Homo sapiens: one gene and its partners. The protein of the gene in region 2 purifies or fractionates together with the protein of the main gene of each other region. This does not show direct contact. Each region holds a gene or a part of one and is shown on either strand. Other genes may lie near its edges.

Evidence for each region.
Region 1: the proteins of GAD1 (region 2) and BLK purify together in Homo sapiens (affinity purification with mass spectrometry; one large-scale study listed by BioGRID and IntAct). This does not show direct contact.
Region 3: the proteins of GAD1 (region 2) and FGFR1 purify together in Homo sapiens (affinity purification with mass spectrometry; 2 studies listed by BioGRID and IntAct, with this or other methods). This does not show direct contact.

Annotation. Positions count from the first base shown.
Region 1 is NC_000008.11:11,549,887-11,553,386, forward strand, and holds part of BLK (tyrosine-protein kinase Blk), read left to right. Parts: intron 1-272; coding exon 273-376; intron 377-2,599; exon of another isoform or gene 2,600-3,500. UniProt on the Homo sapiens protein: Non-receptor tyrosine kinase involved in B-lymphocyte development, differentiation and signaling. B-cell receptor (BCR) signaling requires a tight regulation of several protein tyrosine kinases and phosphatases, and associated coreceptors.
Region 2 is NC_000002.12:170,830,259-170,833,988, forward strand, and holds part of GAD1 (glutamate decarboxylase 1), read left to right. Parts: intron 1-691; coding exon 692-934; intron 935-3,730.
Region 3 is NC_000008.11:38,427,053-38,430,782, forward strand, and holds part of FGFR1 (fibroblast growth factor receptor 1 isoform 1 precursor), read right to left. Parts: intron 2,897-3,730; coding exon 2,630-2,896; intron 1,384-2,629; coding exon 1,294-1,383; intron 1,042-1,293; coding exon 869-1,041; intron 1-868. UniProt on the Homo sapiens protein: Tyrosine-protein kinase that acts as a cell-surface receptor for fibroblast growth factors and plays an essential role in the regulation of embryonic development, cell proliferation, differentiation and migration.

The DNA of each region.
Region 1 (3,500 bases), on a different chromosome or scaffold from region 2:
AAGCAAAATTAACAAAGGTCAACCAACTAGTGTTCTTGTTTCGTTCTAGGAAAACAGTGAGTCCAGGGCTGACAGGAAGCGGAACTGGAAGGGCAGCGGGGCAGAGGGCACTGACTCCATCACGGTGTGAGGAGCAGCAGCTCAGGGCCGACTGGGACCAGAAATGCTAGATTTTTATTTCTTGGGGACAGGCAGTGCAGGAGGGAGGCTGTGTGGGAATACTCCGAGGAGCAGGGTCGCTCTGAGTTTCACCTGTTCCTGCCGTTTTCCAGGTGGTTCTTTAGATCACAGGGTCGGAAGGAGGCTGAGAGGCAGCTTCTTGCTCCAATCAACAAGGCCGGCTCCTTTCTTATCAGAGAGAGTGAAACCAACAAAGGTAGGCTTGGTGGCTTTGCCTGCCTTCCTTGCCCTGCTCCTCCCGGGAAGGCGCCTCCAGAGGCCTGGCCCTGGAGTGAGAGGGGAAGGGGTGACTGCCAGGAGAACCAGCAGCTTCCGGGCTTGTGTCCCTCCCAATTCAGGCCCTGCCCGGGAGTTGACATGGGGGCTGTCCACACAGTCCTCCCTGTCCCGGCTGGAAACCACCTGGGCACAGGAAGCCGGGTGGACAGGGGTGGTCCCACGCCAGACTGGCCCTGCTGCCCAGTCAGCAGGAACACCGAGGCCAGTGGGGGCCAGGGAAGGGGGAACCCTGAGCCCTTAACCACCAGCCTCTTTGGAATCAAGGATTAGGGGGAGCTCAAAGAATCCTTCAAGATCATCTCAGCCAGAGGCTGCAGGTAGCATATGTTAGGAAGTGGCCTGTGCCGTGATGTAAGAGAAGAGGGTGGTAATTGAGGGGAGCCCATGCCAGTCTAGACACTCATGAGTTCAAATCCACTGACTGAGCAAAACAGCTGCCATCACCCTCAGGGGTTTTCTCTCTTTCTCTGTCATTTGGCTTTCTTTCCTTCTTAATTTTTTTGGTGTAAAATATAAAACACATATAAAGCTTGCATGAAGTATGAATGTGTAATTCTAAATCATATAGGGTAATAATAAACAAATCCCTGTGTAATGACAGCCAAGAGAAAGAGCATCCCAGACCACCAGGAGCCCCCTCACTCCCCCACTTGGGCTCCTTCCTGATTCAACCCCCACCCTCAAGAGCTACCTGCTGTCCTGACTTGGATGGAAATCCTTCCTTGCTCTTCTCTGTGGTTTCGCCACCATGTCTTGTCTGTTTTTTCAGCTTGATGTAGATAGAATCACTGTTTTTGTTTCTGTGTGTCTTGCTTCTGTCACTCAGCAGTGTTTGTGGGATTCTATGTTAGTTTCCTGGGCTGCCGTAACAAAGTGGCACAGACTGGGTGGCTTCCACCACAGAAGCTTATTATCTCACAGCTCTGGAGGCTGGAAGTCCACGACCAAAGTGTCAGCAGCGTTGGCTCCTCCCGGGAGCTCTCTCCTTGGCTTGCCGATGGCCGTCTTCTCTGTGTCCTCACGTGGCCGTCCCTCCATGCATGTCTGTGTCCTAATCTCTTCTTGTAAGGACACCTGTCAATTTGGATTAGGGCCCACCCATATGACCTCATTTTAACTTAATCACCCCTTTAAAGGCTCTGTCTCCACATATAGCCACATTCTCAGGACCGAGGGTTAGGACTTTAACATATGAATTGGGAGCGCACATGATTCAACCAGTAACAGATTCATTCATGTGGTTGAGGATGGTGAGCCTGTTCATGTTCATTGCTATACAGAATCCCGGGTGTGACCATTCCAGAGTCAAGTTAGCCATTCTCATGTTGTGGGCATTGAGTTGTTTCCAGTTTGGGGCTGTTAATGCATGTGTTGCACCGAACCCTATTATGGTCCCTGGTGCTCACTGGCCACTAGCTTTTCGTCTGTAAGATACTAATCCACTTGACAGATGAGGAAAGGGAGTCCCTGAAACAGGAAGTGACTTGCTGGGGGCCAACAGTAAGCATCAGAGCCCAAAGCACCAGTGACCACATCATCTAAGAGGCTGAGAGGCTTCCCAAGCTCTACAACGTGGCAAGCTAGGGTGACCCAGGGGCTTCCCAGGCAGTATGAAGAATGCTTTGCTCATCAGGAAGCTGTCCACAGGGACCAGGTACAGCCTTGTAGCCAATTTTAACTGGAGAGGAGATGGTGACAGTGACATCAGAGGAGGAAAGGGAGAGAGAGTGTCTGGAATATGAGTCTGGTTCCCTGTGGTTGGGGCGATGAGAATGGACAGAGTTGTCACCTGGTGGGAGCACCCTTGGGCTGTCCATTGGTTCCATCTGTGGCTCAAGAACAGCAGCCAGAGTGGAAACCCAGAGTATGAAAAGCTGTCATAGCACCCTGTGATTCTCTGGGGACATCATGAGGCCTTGGTGCCCCACAAAGGGGCAGGACCAGGTTGGGGAGCAGGAAGGGTGCATTGGAAAGCTGGGGTGCTCTGTGCAGGATTTCTTGGAATATGCCAATGAATGCATATACATACATATACATACACATAGATATATGCATTTTATATTTATATTCATATTGGATATTGTCACTATTTCATTTTTGTGGCAGAGCACCTCTGTACAAGAAATAATTTGGGAATCACTGGAGATGACATAAGTGTTTTATTGTTGTTCCAGGACATTTCAAACATACACAGAAGTAGAGAAAATAGTTTAGTGGAACCCCTGGTACCCAACAGCCAGCTTCAACAATTATCAACTGAGCCAGTCTTGTTTCATCTGTATCTCCCGCTCCACCCCTGTTCTTTCGAAGTAAATCCCAAACATCATGTCATGTCACCCTGGAAATGATATTTCAACCATTGCCTATTGCTAAGGTGAAAGCCTCCCCACCCCCTGCCCAATCTGGTGTGGAGGAAGAAGGGGTTCTCTATGAGTCTGGCATCTTTTCCTGTCCATGTCCACCCCAGGAAGCCAGTCCAAGCTGGGAATAGGCCATATGGGACCAGGGCTGCAGGACTGTTCAACCATCATCACCACCACACGCACATACACATGCACACATGAACACACATGCACATATGCACAAATGCACACATATACACACATGTGCATACACAGGCATGTGTGCACACATACACATGCAAACACATACACATGTCCACGCATGCACATATACACACACACGCACACATATACATGTGCACATATGCACAGATGCAATGAACACGTGTGCAACACATGTACACACCTTACACGTACATATGCACACACACACACAACTCCAAAGCAAGACCCCTCTGCTTCTCCGAGCCACAGCAGTGAATGCAAGACAGGGATGGAAGCAGGGGAGTGAGTTCTACCCTTCGTGGCCTCCGGGGTGTCCTTGAGCCTCTCAAGCCTCAGTTTACTGGTGTCTATGTGAGGATAGACTAGTTTCACAGCTCAAAGGCAGGCGGTCCTTCAGTGCTGAGAAATCTTCATCTCAGAGCCAGGCCCTGCCTGCCCAGGGCAGTCCAGACATACCACAGAGGCAGGGGATCC
Region 2 (3,730 bases):
TATCGTGCACAACTGCACAGCCTGCCTGTGAGCTACAGAATTGGGCCCCTACAGCTTTTTTCCCTGCCTAACCTCTAGCCTGACTACTGCAGAGCCTGTCACCCAAAGTCACCTCTGGATATCTCAAAGTCCAGGCCCAAAAGGGTGGGGTCAAGAAAGAGGCAGGGGTTCCCTGTCCCACCTTCTTGAGCCCCATCTTCCAGCTCCAGTTTCCTGTCGAAGGACACCGCCAAGGACCACCCTCCTCAGGGGGAACCCCAGCCTCTACCCACAGAGGCCTTACCCTCTGATGCCAACAGACCAAGCACATCACAACACCAAACCAGATAGACAGGGACACACCTGGTCCCAGGGGAGCACGACAGATGCCCCCTCCATCACACTCCTCACAGGTGCCCATTCAACCTGCAGATGACAACCGCAGTCGCAGGTTGTTCACGGCGTCTCAGAGCACTTCATTCCATGTCTGAGCAGCCTGTCAGAAAGGCTGTGAACCCCCAGGAAGCATGTGCAAAACTTCTGTGTATGTGCATTTTTCTGGAGATGTGGTATATCCGATTCTCAGTGCACATACATATCCCAGAATGAAATCAGGCCTATACAGATAGCATGGTTAATATTAGGGGTCTCTGGGCTGAAGAAATCTAGATATGAGTCAGGTGAAAACCATTCATTGCTCTCCCCAATTCAGATCTGCTTCCGGCTAAGAACGGTGAGGAGCAAACCGTGCAATTCCTCCTGGAAGTGGTGGACATACTCCTCAACTATGTCCGCAAGACATTTGATCGCTCCACCAAGGTGCTGGACTTTCATCACCCACACCAGTTGCTGGAAGGCATGGAGGGCTTCAACTTGGAGCTCTCTGACCACCCCGAGTCCCTGGAGCAGATCCTGGTTGACTGCAGAGACACCTTGAAGTATGGGGTTCGCACAGGTAAGGAGGAGAGTTGGGTAGACAGGTAGTGGCAACTTTGCCCTCCATCTCACCCTTGCCAGTTGTGAGGATATCAAACTTGTGTTGGAAGAAAAACACAGCCCTGGTGAGATAAGGCGGCAAAGTACCCAGTGACCACAAGAACAAGCTTGGGCAGTAACAGTTGGTGGAGGGACCCGACCCAGGCAAAAGTTCATCAGCATATATCATGGTAAAAGTAGATAAAAAAGATATAAATGCTTGGTGCTAGGTCAAGTTCTGTATAAAGAGTTTTCATTCTGGCCAAGCACAATGGCTCATGCCTATAATTCCAGCATTTTGGGAGGCCAAGGTGGGCAGAACACTTGAGCTCAGGAGTTCGAGACCAGCCTGGGCAACATGGCGAAACCTTGTCTCTACATATGTGTGTGTGTGTGTGTGTGTGTGTGTGTGTGTGTGTGTGTATATACCTATTTTTATATATAAATATTTATATATAAATATTTAATATAATAAATAAATAATAATTATAAATAATAAAATTTAAAAATAATAAATTATAAATAATAAATATAAAAATAATATATAAATATTTATATATAATATTTATATTATATATTATATATAAATATAAATTATATAATATTTATATATATATGAAAATGAGCTGGGCATGGTGGCGTGCACCTGTAGTCCCAGCTACTCAGGAGGCTGAGGCCAAGAGGCAGAGGCTGCAGTGAGCCAAGATCGTGCCACTGCACTCCAGCCTGGGCAATAGATTGGGACCCTATCTCAAAAAAAAGAATTTTCATTCTTGGATTTAGGCTATTCACAACCTAAAGAGAGCAGAATGACCCATCCTCTGCTTCTTTTCTTGCCTCCATTTTCAGGTCTATTTCATTCTGATAAATCCTGCCCTTGCCTGTCCCTGACACTGGGGAGAATTGGGCTATTTCCTCTCCCTTTCTGTATTAGTTTCCTAGGAATGCCATTATAAATGACCACAAATTGGATGGCTCAAAACAATAGAAATTTGTTCTCTCACAATTCTGGAGGCTAGGAGTTTAAAATCAAGGTGCTGGCTATGCTCTCTCTGATGGCTCTTGGAGAGGATCCACCCTTGTCTTTACCAGCTTCCAGGTGTTGTGGATATTCCTTGGCATTTGTTGGCTTGTAGATGCATCGCTCCAACCTCTGCCTTCACTTCACATGGCCTTCATCCTGTGTGTGTGTCCAAATTTCTCTCTCCTTATAAGAATGCCAGTCGTTGGATTAAGGCCCACCCCAATCCAGCATGACCTCATCTTAACATGATTACATCCGCAAAGACCCGATTTCCAAATAAGGTCACATTCACAGGAACCAGGGATTAGGACTTGAACATATCTTTTTGAGGAACACAATTCAACCCATGACACCTTTTACCAGCTAGGCCAAAAAGACACATGCACACACAGGCCAAAAAGACACAGGCACACATGCGCGCGCGCGCGCACACACACACACACACACACACACACACACATACACACATGCCTTCTCATTCTACTGCAACTTCTGGAACTTAGGACACTCTGAGTCACCAAATTCTATTTCCAGTGGGAGTCCTTGAGGATGTCCTCTTGCCTCCTTTTCTTGTTCCAGGAGCTCTCTCTAATCAGCAATCCTCATCAAAGCAGTTGCTTTCCAATTGCCTCCAGTTCAAGGACTTTGGGGCCTCTGTCTGAGATGCTTAGAAACAGCTCAGACTGTGGACTAAGCCCAGGAGTGACACAGTGGTTTCTTCTCCCTATAACTCTCTCCACACTACAGTCTGGCTTTCCTGAGCTCTCAGGCAGACAGATCTAGAATAATTGACAGTCCCTAGCTTAGTTGCCACCACAGGGGAAGCCCCAAGGCCACAACTGGCAATCCTGTGTTCTTTCTTCTTCTTTGTCTCTCCTTCTTTATTTTCCCTCTCATTCTTCCTCGTCATTTGAAGATAGATTTAAGACTGAGACTAGGAGGCTGGTGGTGATAGAGCTGAGTAAGACTATTGGATGTCAAAAACAAAGTGTTATAATGAAATAATGATGCTGGCCAAAGATGCTTTTTAAAATGAGGAATCCCAGAGAGCTGCTGAGGTCTGCCAACACCACTGGAATAAGTGCAGCTTCATTAAATGACTGATGGATACACAAGACTCAGTTATATGTACAAAATTTATGTTGTTTGATTTTTAAAGAAAAGCACTCTATCAATTTACATTTAGTTACTTCTCATCTTGGTCAGATGGCTAATATATTCCTAATGGAAAACAAATAGTGTTATTCGGCTGCATTTTAAAAAGAGTCAGAATTCCCCATGTATGTTTAGCTTGACTTGCTTTGGTGTGATATTTTGAACTTTGCCAGTTTGCTCTACATGCGCTTTCTCAGAGAGATGAGAACTACATCATTTTATTATGAAAGCCCAGAATGGCGTTGTCCCTCAAATAAAAATACATGATTTTGTCATAATATCAACTAATATTATCTACAAAACCAAAGCATCTTGTGGTCAGAGAAAGCACTGACGGGCCTGGCCTGGTGGCTCACACTCGTGATCCCATCACGTTGGCAGGCTGGCAGGTGGATCACGCGAGCTCAGGAGTTCAAGACTAACCTGGGCAAAACCCCATCTCTACCAAAAATACAAAAATTAGCTGAGCGTGGTAGTGTGCACCTGTGATCCCAGCTACTCTGGAGGCTGCAGTGGGAGGATCACTTGAGCCCGGGAGGCGGAGGTTGCAGTGAGCTGAGATTGTGCCACTGCACCACTCCAGCCTGGGTGACAGCA
Region 3 (3,730 bases), on a different chromosome or scaffold from region 2:
GCCAAGATGGCACCACTGCACTCCAGCCTGGGTGACAGAGTGAGACTCCGTCTAAAAAAAAAAAAAAAATGCTTACACCCTTTAAGTTAGTAATTTCACTTGTAACAATCTGTCCTAAGGAAGCACGCTTAAAAAAATGCTGACAGAGATTCACTGCAACATTATTTATTATGGTGAAAAACCAGAAAATACCTAATATCACAAAATAGTTCATTAAATTATAGGACTTTTTCTGTTGTTTTTTGGAGACAGAGTCTCACTCTGTCACCCAGGCTAGAGTGAAATGACGTGATCTCAGCTCACTGCAACCTCTGTCTCCTGGGTTCAAGCAATCTCCTGCTTCAGCCTCCCCAGTAGCTGGGATTACAGGAGCCTGCCACCACACATGGCTAATTTTTTGTATTTTTAGTACAGAGGAGGTTTCGCCATGTTGCCCAGGCTGGTCTCGAACTCCTGAGCTCAGGCAATCCGCCCACCTCGGCCTCCCAAAGTGATAGGATTTTAGGCGTGAGCCACCATGCCCAGCCAAATTATGGGATTTTAAAATAATGGAATCTTATACAGTCATGAAAAATTATGTTTCAAATATTCATGCTTGAAATATATCAGGAAAAGACTCATGTTAACAAATGACAAGGCAAGGAAATTACATACATGATGTGATCAACTATGTAAAAACCATATTACAGAAAGAAGACTGAAGAAATGTTTAAACTTTATTTGCATTTTTTTGTATTTAAAAATTTTAATGAATAACCTGTATAGGTGGAAAGTATTACTTAAAAAAATGAAAAGCATGTAATCAGGACTTCCTAACTCGGCCTCCCCTGTTCCCATTACTCTAACTTTCGCATGCACACACACGTACCTTGTAGCCTCCAATTCTGTGGTCAGGTTTGAATTCTTTGCCATTTTTCAACCAGCGCAGTGTGGGGTTTGGGGTCCCACTGGAAGGGCATTTGAACTTCACTGTCTTGGCAGCCGGCACTGCATGCAATTTCTTTTCCATCTTTTCTGGGGATGTCCAATATGGAGCTACGGCTGCCCGGGGAAAGCCAAGAGAGACAGGCAGGGTGGAGAGGAGCAGCTGGTCAGGCTCAGGAGCAGGGCCCAGGCCAGGACCTGGAGGTGTCTTGCCCATCTGCCCAACACCTGTGAGCAGTGCCTGGCACTTAGCAGAACAGGCACCGTGACCCCATGTGCCCTCCTCTTCCTCCCCTTTCAGCCTTCCCCTCCCCTCTTAAACCCAATGCCCAGACCCAAAGGGCAGTAAGATAGGAAACAGTGTCTCACGCATACGGTTTGGTTTGGTGTTATCTGTTTCTTTCTCCTCTGAAGAGGAGTCATCATCATCATCATCATCCTCCGAGGAGGGGAGAGCATCTATGGGAAGAAGAAGGGGCACTGAGGTTCCTCCTAGGGACCCCTAGATTTCACCAAGGCTAGTGCAGTTCCAGATGAACACGGACACCCTCCCCATGGGGATCCCAGTCCCACTGCTCCCTTAGTGATGATCTCTTGGTGGGATGGAAACTGTTTAAGAACAGTTCCTGTGCGTGTTTGCTTCCTTCCCCGAAGCACTGCCCCCACTGCCTGGAAGCCTTCACACTGGGTGGTTCCATCAGGGTCAGCTGTTCCTATTTAACTTAATTCCGTCCTACATTCAAAGGCGCTTTCTCAACTTGTGGTGCCACCTGGGTGTGCTGGAGCCAGGCAACCTGTATTCTTCTTTGGACGGCTGACTATAGGGAAACCCAGGCAGGTCTAGACACACTGTGGCTAGATGCTATTTCCAAAGGATGGGCTAAACACCCCACAGTCAGAATTTTTCTAGCATGTGTCTACTAAGGTTTGGGGGCTGCCCTCCTTAATCAGAGCAGATAGGGCACCCACCACCCCAGCAGCTGCCAACACCTCTCCCCAATAAGTATTTATTTCTTGTAAGAACACGCTTGATACACATGTGGTCACCCATCAGGGTTCATGCCAGATCTTTCTCCAGTCCTTCCTATCACCTTTGGGGATCTGCTGCCAAGTCCACACCCTGAGGTGCATAAATGGCATAAAGAAAATTTCAGCTCCACTTCCTCAACTCCTAGTTTTGTGAAAGTCACATTCTAAGAGTGGCAAGTTCCCAAGTTCACAGAGCTCCAGGGCTCCCTGGCTGCCCTCGCACAGCTCCCTTGCGGTGCACCTGGGTTCCTCTCCAGCAGAGCAGGGATACCACCACCTGTTCAGGGCCTCTAATCACTAAGCCGAGTACCAAGTCCAAATGGCAAGGGAGTGATGGAGTGGAAGCTGGCCGAGCACCACTTAGCCTCCTGGAGATCTGGGCAAGCTGTGGTGGAAAAAAATCACAGGGTCTTAACATCCCAAGAGCCCTGGCAATCACCTCCGAGGTGTGTCCTGGAAGCCCCAGATCTCCGGCCCTGGGGCCCACCCCACCTAGTCACCTCTCTGAGAGCCAAGCCACGCGGCAGGCAGGGAGCAATGTTAGTGGGCAGCAGTTTCTGAAGCAGAGTGGGGGCAGATCACGGAGGGGGAGGAGGTTCACCTTCCTCTGAAACTGGCAGAGAGGGCTGGAGGGGGTGGGTCTAGGGAGGGGCAAGGGCAGGGCTTGGCTACCAACCTGAAACATTGACGGAGAAGTAGGTGGTGTCACTGCCCGAGGGGCTGCTGGTTACGCAAGCATAGAGGCCGGAGTCTGCGGGCACGGAGTCCTGCACCTCCACCTCCTCCCCTGTGATGCGGGTGCGGTTGCTTTCCGCCAGCTGCACCCCGTCCCGCAGCCAGTTGATGCTCTGCACATCGTCCCGCAGCCGACAGCGAAGCTGCAGCAGGTCACCGGGGTGGACCAGGAAGGACTCCACTTCCACAGGGGCTCCCCAGGGCTGGGCTGCAGCCACCACGGGGCCGGGAAGGGAAGCCAAGGGGCGAGAGAGGAAGACAGGGAGAGGGGAGGAGGGGAGAGACAAAGGGAATTACGCTGGCCACACGGAGCCGCACCATCCTGGGCATCACTTACTGGAGGCTACTGAGCCAGGGCAGTGGGAATTGGAGCATGGGTCAGTGGGGAAAACAGCTGGCTGCCTGGGAACCCCCATCTCTTTTCCACCCCACTCCTCCAAAAGTCAAAGGAAGAAAGAGGCAAAGTTAGGAAGCAGCTGTAGCAGCATTAAGCGCATTTCATTTCCCCCATCCTAAGGGGAAAGGTCGGCCCTCCCCAGGACTTCTTTGTGTCCGGAGTTGCCCCCTCCCCAGATGCTCAGTTCTTTGCCAAGATTGCCACTTGCCAGAGGAACACCCCATTTCCTTTGGGATAGCTCAGCCTCACCCTTCCCTAGCAACAGCTGAACAAACCCCGCCCCTCAAAACCCCAGCAGCCCCTGCCCAAGTCGAGAGAAGGCAATTTGTCAACTGGGGGCTGACCAGGATGCGTGTGATTCGGAGAGGGTGGGGGTCTGGCCCTCGACGCGTCAGATGCACATGCTGGGGGGGCAGCCCAAGGAGAGGTCAGCTCAGGGAACCTCTCGCTAACAGGTGTCAGGGCAGGGGATTTGGAGCTGTTGACTATATTAGGACGGGAGGCCACAGCTGCCATAAAACCCACACTTGCTCTGGCAGCAGGAGCTGTCGCACACAAAGGTCCTTTCTCCTCAGCCCTCTGACTGGGCACACCCTCAGGCCCCCCACCATCCACTCTCCCTCCCCGTGCCCCATCCTTCTCTGT